Regions from separate parts of the Homo sapiens genome. Here region 1 is linked to region 2. The links come from fine-mapping of genetic effects on gene expression. A gene starts in region 2. The other region holds a variant in brackets. All regions are shown on one strand. Distances are between the middles of the regions.

Region 1 (5,363 bases), 250 kb after region 2:
GTTCAATTTATTTTTTGGAGACAGAATCCTGCTCTGTCACCCAGGTTGGAGTGCAGTGGTGTGATCTCAGCTCACTGCAACCTCCACCTCCTGGGTTCAAGTGATTCTTGTGCCCAGGCTCCAAGCAGCTGGGACTACAGACATCCACCACCACACCTGGTTAATTTTTGTATTTTAGTAGAGATGGGGTTTCACCATGTTGGCCAGGCTGGTCTTGAACTCCTGACCTCAAGTGATCCGCCTTCCTCGGCCTCCCAAACTGTTGGGATTACAGGTGTGAGCCACCGCGCCTGGCCAAACTTCGTAGTTTTTATCATCTATCTTGATGATGCCTGACGCCCTTTTTCTTACTTTTCTATGTGCAGCATAATAAGAGTGCCACATACTCCGTGGGAATGCAGAAAACGTACTCCATGATCTGCTTAGCCATTGATGATGACGACAAAACTGATAAAACCAAGAAAATCTCCAAGAAGCTTTCCTTCCTGAGTTGGGGCACCAACAAGAACAGACAGAAGTCAGCCAGCACCTTGTGCCTCCCATCGGTCGGGGCTGCACGGCCTCAGGTCAAGAAGAAGCTGCCCTCCCCTTTCAGCCTTCTCAACTCAGACAGTTCTTGGTACTAATGTGAGGAAACAAACATGTTCAGGCCCTGAACATTTCCGGTGCTGACTCGGCCTTAAACGTTTGTGCCATAATGGAAAATATCTATCTATCTGTTCTCAAATCCTGTTTTTCTCATAGTGTAAACTCACATTTGATGTGTTTTTATGAAGGAAAGTAACCAAGAAACCTCTAGGAATTAGTGAAAAAAGAACTTTTTTGAGGTGTGTTACTATACTGCTGTAAGTTATTTATTATATAAAGTATTGTAAATAGAATAGTGTTGAAGATATGAAATATGGCTATTTTTAATGGTGACAATTATGACTTTTAGTCACTATTAAATTGGGGTTACCTATATCAGTACAATTTGTAGTTGTTTCCAGGTTTGGCTAATAATCATTCCTTAACCTAGAATTCAGATGATCCTGGAATTAAGGCAGGTCAGAGGACTGTAATGATAGAATTAAATTAGTGTCACTAAAAACTGTCCCAAAGTGCTGCTTCCTAATAGGAATTCATTAACCTAAAACAAGATGTTACTATTATATCGATAGACTATGAATGCTATTTCTAGAAAAAGTCTAGTGCCAAATTTGTCTTATTAAATAAAAACAATGTAGGAGCAGCTTTTCTTCTAGTTTGATGTCATTTAAGAATTACTAACACAGTGGCAGTGTTAGATGAAGATGCTGTCTACAAGGTAGATAATATACTGTTTGATACTCAAAACATTTTTCATTTTGTTTAAAGTAGAAGTTACATAATTCTATATTTTAAGTCTTGGGTAAAAAAGTAGTTTTACATTTTATAAAGTAAAGATGTAAATGATTCAGGTTTAAAGCTCTATTTGACTTCCTTTTTTTGTTTGAGATAGCGTCTTGCTGTGTTGCCCAGGCTGGAGTGCAGTGGTGTGATCTCAGCTCAGTGCAACCTCCGCCCCCTGGGATCAAGCGATTCTCCTACCTCAGCCTCCCAAATAGCTGGGACTACAAGGTGCCCTCCAGCATGCCTGGCTGATTTTTGTATTTTTAGTTGAGGTGAGGTTTCACCATGTTGGCCAGGCGGGTTTCGAAATCCTGACCTCAAATGATCCACCCACCTCAGCCTCCCAAAGTGCTGGGATTACAGGCATGAGCCACCACAACCGTCCCACTATTTTACTTTTTAAAATGACATTCCTACTGATTGATTTTTATCTTGCTATAAGTTCGATGACACCGTGAATCTAATAAGGTTCACTGTTGACACAGTACAAGTTACATAGCTAAAATACATAGCATTGAAGACTAATTTTAAGGATTGACAAGAGTTTATTTTCTATTGTGCAATATCTTAAAGGAAGCAACCACCTTTGGGAAAGTGTATCTGCTGCTCCTAGGGCCATGCTTGTATACATATTTAAATAAACATATTCATTTACCCGAGTTAATATTTCTTTTTACTTTTATTTCATTTTCATTCCCTCCTCTTTCAAATTGTTTCTCCCCAATGCACACAGTTTCTAATGTTCTGATTTTTTTAGTTACTAACATTTCACAAAGCAGAACTTAAAAAGCTGTCAAGTTATCTTAGTATTTTCTAAGACAGATGGTATCTTTGTGCTTATTTTTTGTTTTTGTCTTTTTTTCAAGACAGGGTCTCGCTTTGTCACCCAGGCAGGAGGACAGTGGCGCAATTGTGGCTCATGGCAGCCTCAACCTTCCGGGCTCAAGCAATCCTCCCACCTCACCCTCCTGAGTAGCTGGGACTACAGGCATGAGCCACCATGCCTGGCTAATTTTTTTGATTTTTTTGTAGAGATGGGGTCTTGCCATGTTGCCCAGGCTGATCTCGAAATCCTGGACTCAAGCAATCCTCCCACCTCAGCCTCCCAAAGTGCTGGGACTACAGGTGTGAGCCACTGTGCCTGGCCTGTGTCTATTTTTTGAATGGGCAATTTGTACCTTTTGATCCCCAGCCCCTGCTTCCCTCACTAGATGCAGCTGCTGCCATCATTTTCTTGTATCCTTCCATTGTTGGGCCTTTCATATACAAACACAGCCTGTTCTGCCTCATGCATGTTGAGTTTTCAACTTTAAATTTTTTTTTTTTTTTTTTGAGATGGAGTCTCACTCTGTCATCCAGGCTGGAGTGCAGTGGTGCAATCTCGGCCCATTGCAACCTCCACCTCCTGGGTTCAAGCGATTCTCGTGCCTCAGTCTCCTGAGTAGTTGGGATTACAGGTGTGTGCCACCACACCCAGCTAATTTTTGTATTTTTAGTAGAGACAGGGCTTCACCATGTCGGCCAGGATGGTCTGGATCTCCTGACCTTGTGATTCACCCCCCTTGGCCTCCCAAAGTGCTGGGATTACAGGTGTGAGCCACTATGCCCGGCCGTTGAGTTTTCAACTTTAAGTGGGAACTTCAGACTTCATACTTTCTGTGTGCAGAAGACATATGCAGTGATTATAAACAAACTGTACATCTGCCAAAAAAAAAGGCCGGGGGGAGGGAGGAACAAAGGAAAGGA[G/T]GAAGGAACTGTTGCGCAGTTATTTATTTACATTGGAAACAGCCCTCGCAGTACGGGTATATGAAGGCCAGACCTGATGAACAGCAGGTGAAACTCTGGGAACCCAGGGCTTAGGATACACAGTGCTTCCTTGTACATTTGTTTCCTTCAGATGGTCACATCCACCACTGAAGCTTTTTAGAAGGCACTTTCCATGACAGATGCAGGTCAAGGTCGCACATTAAAATCGGCCCTAATGCTTTTTGCTGAGTGTGAGTCCCTGACTCTCTTGCGAAGATCCCACCAGCCCTTTTCGTCTTAGCAGAATGAAGGCAGTGCCCTCTGCGGCCCACTAACTTCACAAGCTGAACTCAGACGCTAAGGCAGGACGACCCACGGGCTCCATTCAAGCCTCGCCTCATCTTTCACTGGTTGCTGCTGGAGAAAATCCTTTTTCTTTTTTTTTTTTTTTTGTTGTTTTCTTTGAGACGGAGTCTCGCTCTGGTGCCCAGGCTGGAGTGCAGTGGCACGATCTCAGCTCACTGCAACCTCCGCCTCCCGGGTTCAAGTGATTCTCATGCCTCGGCCTCCCAAGTAGCTGGGATTACAGGCACCTGTCACCATGCCTGGCTAATTGTTCCTATTTTTAGGGGTTTCTCCATGTTGGCCAGGCTGGTCTTGAACTCCTGACCTCAGATGATCCGCTGTCTTCGGCCTCCCAAAGTGCTGAGATTAGAGGCGTGAGCCAGTGCACCCGGCCCATTCTCTTGGTTTTTAAAGCTGAAAACAAGATCCTGGTGTTTGTGGTCTCAGGAGAAGATGCCGTGGCCCTGAGGCCAGCCCTCACCTGGGCTGCGTGAAGAAGGCATGGATCTGCTGTGCCACTGCTTGTCCGACCACCTGCTCCAGTTCCCCAATGGAAGCATTACTCAGTTGCTGGATGCTTGGAAACTTCTGGAGGAGAAGGGGAGCTTTAACTTTTCCAACTCCTGGGATCTGCTGCACGGTTCGAAGGAGCGAAGGCTCAGACAGCAGCAGGGCCCGTTTCTTCCCGAGAAGAGGGTTCTTACTGGGCTCTTTGGTTTGCTCTTGAACCTGAACCACAATGAAAGCAACAGCACGTGAGCGCCCTCTGGAGGACTGGCCGTTTTCTTAAAATATGTTTTGTAGAAATTGCGTTTTTCCATTTGGCTCAGCTTGACTTAAGGGAACAAATGTTTTCATGTATCATGAATATAATTTCTCAGACATCAGTAAAATTATTGAAAGGTGAACCACACAAAGGAGTTAAGACATTAATTTACAAAAATGTGCGTTTTCAGAATGTTTAGAAAAACACACAGATGAATTCAAACACTTTCTGTTGGTCCATTAAGAAACATTTCAGTTGTGCAGGATTAAATGATGGCTACACCTAAACTAGGCCTACTTCACGCAGGAGCTGCAGGAAGCCTGCCTCAAAGGAGAAACCTGGTCTAGTTAGTGGTGGTTATACTAAGGCAGACAACAGTGTTATATCAAGGAAAGTTAGGAACGGTGACGCAAGGGATATAGTAGAGAGGGATCTGTGAACCATTCATGGCTGCTTGCATCTTCAATGTGGCTCTCAACTCTAGCTCCACATCAGAGGGGGTGATTTAAAAACAACACACACATAACAAAGAAAACAAAAGTGAAAAAAACAAACAACACACACACACAATTGATGTTCCCCATGCTGGGATCAGAGGCGTAAGCTACTAAACTGATTTTAAAAATAAGTGTTGGCGGCCGGGCGCGATGGCTCACGACTGTAATCCCAGCACTTTGGGAGGCTGAGGCGGGCACAACACCTGAGGTCGGGAGTTCGAGACCAGCCTGACCAACATGGAGAAACCCCGTCTTTACTAAGAATACAAATTAGCTGGGCGTGGTGGCGGGCACCTGTAATTCCAGCTACTCGGGAGGCTGAGGCAGGAGAATCACTTGAACTCAGGAGGAGGAGGTTGCAGTGAGCCGAGACTGCATCATTGCACTCCAACCTGAGCAACAAGAGCGAAACTCCATCTCAAAAAAAAAAAAAAAAGTGTTGGTTGGTGCGGTGGCCCAGAACTTTGGGAGGCTGAGGCAGGCAGATCACCTGAGGTCAGGAGTTTGAGACTAGCCTGGCCAACATGGTGAAACTCTTATCTCTACTAAAAATACAAAAATTAGCCGGGCATGGTGGTGGGTGCCTGTAATCCCAGGTACTAGGGAGGCTGAGGCAGGAGAATCGCTTGAACCCAGGA
Region 2 (5,373 bases):
ATCATGTCTTTTGACTGACAGAAGTTTCTAATCTTAATGTAGTCCAATCTGTCACTTTCTTACTGTGTTTCTTATGTCTGTTTAAGAAAATGTATCTATTCTCTCCCCTGAGTTTTCTTCTAGCAGCTTTGATGTTTCACCTTTCACACGTACATTTCACATGTACATCACCTGGGACTGGTTTTAGGGTATAATGGAAGGGTGACATTAAAAGGGTTTTGGTTTTTTTCTTCAATATATAGATCCACCACCACTTATTGAAAAGCCCGTCCTTTCTCCACTGTTCTGCAATATCAACTTTGTCATAATAAACCAGGATGGGTCTGTTTCTGGATTTCTGTTTTCTTCCACCAGTAGATTTGTTTATCTTTGCATCAATGCCACACTGTCTTCCTTACTGTAGTATAAGTCCTCCAGATTTGTTCTTCTTCACATACTCTTTAGAATCAGCTTGTTGAGTTTCATCCCTCCAAAAAAGCCTTGTAATCAACAACAAAGTTGTCTGGTGCTTTGATCAAAATTACATTGGATGTATTTATCAATTCTATAAATCAATGTGGAGACCAACATTTTAAATTCCAATCCATGAACATGGTATATCCCTCCATTAGCTTATGTCTTTAACAATTTCTCTCAGAAATGTTTTGTAGTTTCTTGCATAAAAATTGTACACATCATTCACTAGAATTATTTTTAGGTATTTGATTTTATGCTATTATTAATTTCATTTTCTAATTATTTCTAGTATATAGAATACAATTAGTTTCTGTATATTAAACTTCTGTCTAGCGACTTTGCTAAATGAACTTATCTTCCTTAAATTAACCTGTAATTTTTTTTCTACATACTGAATCACATCATATGTGAATGGCAGCTTTATCTTTCCCTTTACTATCTTCATACCTTTTTACTTATTTTTCTTGTCTTATTGCTCTGGCTAGGACCTCCAGTACACTATTGTATAGAATATTGACAAGTGCCAACATCCCTTCTCATTTTCAATCTCAGTAGAAAAGCATTCACACTTTCACCACTAAACATGATGTCAGCTGTAGGGTTTTTGTTTGTTTCTTGGTTTCTTGGAGATTTGTTTTTAGGTAGATACTTTTATCAGATTAAGGAGGTTCTCTTCTGTTTCTATTTGCTAAGAGTTGTTTGTTTACATCACGGATGACTGTTTTTTGCATCTGTTGAGGTTTTCCTTTTTTCTCTCTATTAATGTGGAGAATCATGCTGATTGGTTTTTGGATGGTAAACCAATCCTACTAACCTTTTGTTCCCATTGAAATTTGCAGGTTCTAGTTCAATTCCACGAAAAGGACCTCCTGAGCTATGGGGCCTGGCTGACAACATACAAACTCCATCCTGTGCAAAGCCCTAGGCCGACCTTTCCCCCACAAACGCATACTCCACATTCCAGGTCCCAGAGAGACACCCTCGAAAACCACAGGCTTCAGAGCTGCGAGGCTTGCGCCAGCCCCTGCCCCTTGGCAAGCTGCCCCTGATTGCACCAGCCCTGGCTAGACCCTCTCCCAGCAGACCCTAGAATTGCGAGGGCAACTGGGGGGCTGGGGAGAGTCAAACCAGAAGGTCGAGGCCTCTGGCCCCTAACACCCGCGACAATCAGGGGTCTCCGGAGCCAGGGCTGCCCCTACCCTGCGCGAGGCTCCTTTAAGAGAGTCGGCCTCTGAATGGTCTCTGGGGCTGGAGGTGGAGGGCGCCAAGAATGCCGGTCTCCGACGACAGAAGCGAGAGGGATGCAGCTTCGCCGGGTGGCCTCCCCCTCGGCGTCCCACCAGCACGTCCACCCTGGATCCTCCCGCTCCTACTCCTACCCCAAGTCCCCGCCCCCAACTTCGAAGCTCCTGTGTGCCTGCAAACGCCGGCCCCGCCCCGCTCCCACCTCCAGGCCCTGCCGCTGCCAGGGACCCGCCCCTGCCAGGGACCCGCCCCCGCCCCGTCCCACCCCGGTCCACCCTGCAGCCGTCGGACCCCTGGCAGGGCCCCAGCAAACCCGGAGGCCGCCACTGGGGGGAAGGACGGGGCGCCCGGCGAGGCCTCATCCACATGCAGGGGACGGCGCGTCGCGGCGGCCGCCAGGAAGAAACAAAGGCTGTTCCGCCGCCGGCCGCACAGTGCCAGGCTCGCCCCGCCCGCCGCCCCGGTGGCCCCGACGCGGCCCCCCTGGATCTTTTCCGCCGGCCTCGGCTGCACAGTCCGGACGGCTTCCGGGAGGAGGCAGCCTCCCTCGGATCCCCGCACTCCCGACCCTCTCCCGCGACCACAGCCTCCTTCTCCGTGTCTCCCGGGCATTCCAGGTCGCCTGGCCTTCTTGAGCCGGGCTGGATCGCGCGGGACCTGCACCAGAGACCCGAGTTCTAGTCCGCTGAGCCCTCACTCTGACCTGGGACGAGGAGCCTGTAGTGAAGATCTCAGGCCAGAGGTGGCCCAGAGCCTGGTAGGGTGGGCGAGCCGTGTCCAGGACTCGTCACAGGTCTTGGGTCCCCGTGATGAGGATGAGAGCCCCCGGGATCTTCACCTCGACCCTCAGGCCTTTGATCCAGGGTGCATAGGACACCCAGACCCCTCAGAGGAGTTCCAGACCTCAACCCCCACCCCTCCTGAGGTTGTCCGCCTGGGAGCCTCAGGAGGCACGAGAAAGGGTTTGGTCTCAGCCCTGCACTTGCTCGGCGATCGCTACTGATCTCTGGGCTTCAACTTCCACCTGTAGAATGGACTCACCCTGGGAGCTGTCTCCTACACACACACACACACACACACACACACACACACACACACACACATCGTGCAGGCATAGAGTACTAAAGGGAGCACACACTGCATCCCCACACGCGGCCAGCTGTTATTCTTGCCGTCCCCCTCGGCCTCCCTGAGAGCAGGGATTGTCTTGTCTCGGAGCTCTGCTCCCCAACCCGGCCCCAAGAATGGATGTAACTCAGGCAACTGGAGGGTCCCTTCCTTCGCCCAACTGGGAAGTCCTTCCTAGATCTGCCCCAAGTCCTCTCCTTCCTTCCCAGGCCGGGACTGGGGGAGGGGGCGTTCCCTTTAAGGGAGGTGGGGGAGGGGGCTGTGGGCCGGCCCTCCTTCCGCCCCTCCCGGGCCCCCGCCGCCCGGGGCCCCCAGTCCCGGGCCCGGAGCCAGCGCATGCGCCCGCCTGTGGGCGCTGTCCCGGCTGCGAGGGCCGTGAGCTCACGGACCGACGGACCGACGGGCGGCCGGCCGGACAGACGGGGCAGCGCAGGGAGCGGGGACGCGGCGGGACAGCGACATGGCCGGCCACACGCAGCAGCCGAGCGGGCGCGGGAACCCCAGGCCTGCGCCCTCGCCCTCCCCAGTCCCAGGGACCGTCCCCGGCGCCTCGGAGCGGGTGGCGCTCAAGAAGGAGATCGGGCTGCTGAGCGCCTGCACCATCATCATCGGTGAGCGGGACCCAGGCGGGCGGGCGCCGGGCGGAGGCCGAATGAGGGGCGCAGCCGCTCCGAACGAGGGGCGTCCCCTCTCCGGGCGCTCGGACGGGTCTGCCTGGGGAACCTGCAGTCTGGCCTCAGAGAGCGCTATGACCGCGGGGAGGTCAGGGGCTGCTGGCCCAGGGTGCCAAAGCTCCGTGTTCCCACCTCCCGGCCGCCTGCACCTGGGGGAGTTTTGGGTCCCCTCCACCGCTGGACTCTTCCTCCTGACTCGATTTTGCTGCGGGGCTTTTGCAAGGCAGTTACCCTCAGTTTCCTCATCTGTGAAATGGCCATGACTGCAGTCCTGCGATTAGCGCAGGAACTTGACCAGTGTAGGGGCTGGTCAGGCTGCGGCAGGCTGAGCTCCCCAAGTTCTGTACTGTGGGTCAGTCTGAGTACCTACTGTGTGCAGGGTCCAGGTGCCACGCAGTGCAGTGACTTTATTCTTGGAAAGCAGGAGGGCCTATGAGCAGAGTGAGCAAGCGCAGCCTGCGCAGAAGGGACGGAGGTTCAGAGCAGGCAATGACTGCAGGGTTTGGCAGCAGGACCCAGGAGAGGGGGCGGGTTAGCCAGCAATTGGGGGCAGCAGTGGGCAGACCCAGCCTGCAGAAGGCCAGCTGCTCCCTGAGCTGGGATCCTGGTGGGCACTGGACACTCGCCTGGTCTGGAGGCCCTGGACTCCAAAGTCCCCACCTGAGAATGGGTCCATGTCCTGCCCCCACATAGGGGTTTCTGGGCAGGCAGAGAGCTCAGAGGTCATGGGAATGGCAGTGGTATTTTTCCACTCTCTGTCCCAAGTCATGGATACTGACTTGTTTCTTTGTCTACACAGAGTGCCTCTGAGCCCCTCCAGGGAGGGACAGGAGAAGTGGTTTGGGGGGTGAGTGACTGGGGCCTCGACTGTTCTCACCTTACCGCCAGCCAGTCTTCCCGGTCCCCTGCCAGTGAGAGCCACTTGTGTCTTCACTGCCTTCCCACCCTCAGACCCCTGGAGATGGAGAAAGTTTGGGGGCTCAGTAGGGCAGACCCAGGGTCTTCACCTCGTCCTCTCCCACCCCCACATTAGCAGCTCTTCACATCCAGAGTTGCCCCTGAACACAGCCCCTGGCCAGGTCACTCCGCCATCTCACCCCCTCCCCTTAGAATGCTGTCTCCCAGAGCCTGGTCCTGACCTGGCCCTGGGAGCTTCTTGGCCTAGGATGCCCCTGCCTGATGGACGGTCTGCTGGAAGGAAGGGCTGGTTCCAGGGATTTGGCCAGGGTGCTGGTTAGAGCTTTTTCTTGGCCCACACCCTCTCCAGGAACTGTCCTCCAGGGAAGGGGAAGCTCACACCATGAGTGGGTCATAGGATTGAGACCATGCCTAGAACCAGCTACAGTGCCAGGCAGGTGCAGAAAGACACAGCTCTGCCTGGGCTCCTCAGCTAAGCCCAGCATCCTTGACCTGTCTTCCTACTCTATCCCCTCCCCACATCCCATCCTCCCCAGGCCACAGGGAGGCTGCCTGGCTCCTTTCTCCCCAGAAAGGGGCCCTGGTGGTGGTGGTGGTGGTGGTGGTGGTGGTGGTGGTGGTGGTGGTGATGGTAGAGGTGGTGGTGGTGGGAGTGGAGAAGGCCAACTCCACTATCACCCTCCTTTTCCAGGACAGACTCTGTAAGTTTCCCATGCAGCCCAGGTCTGCCCTGACAGCTCCCCTACCCTTCAGTTCCTTCCTGCTGTGCCAGGTCCACTACCTTGGCCTCCAAACCTTGAACACTGAGCCAGGGTGAAGGGCCACTTAGCTAACCAAGGATGCTGGATTCAGCTACAGAACCCAAGCCCGGGGCACTCAGTGGTGGTCTTGGGGAGCCTTGATCTTGGCCTGGCCCGGGGAGCCTTTGAGGATTACAGCAGGCAGGAGGCTG

The links.
Region 1: its variant is fine-mapped to the expression of SLC7A10 in whole blood (TOPMed, PIP above 0.99).

What each region holds. Positions count from the first base shown.
Region 1 is chr19:32,975,259-32,980,621 of GRCh38, reverse strand. FAAP24 (FA core complex associated protein 24) reads right to left here. Exons shown (of 5, transcript NM_152266.5): 5 at 2,393-4,191. The coding sequence ends at 3,940. It overlaps RHPN2 (rhophilin Rho GTPase binding protein 2), which reads left to right. Exons shown (of 15, transcript NM_033103.5): 15 at 366-2,030. The coding sequence ends at 626. Among named protein-coding and RNA genes, the nearest start is that of FAAP24, 5.7 kb to the right of the region's middle. The variant G/T (reference allele first, on the strand shown) is at 3,118.
Region 2 is chr19:33,223,620-33,228,992 of GRCh38, reverse strand. It overlaps SLC7A10 (solute carrier family 7 member 10), which reads left to right and starts at 3,143. Exons shown (of 11, transcript NM_019849.3): 1 at 3,143-3,440. The coding sequence starts at 3,290.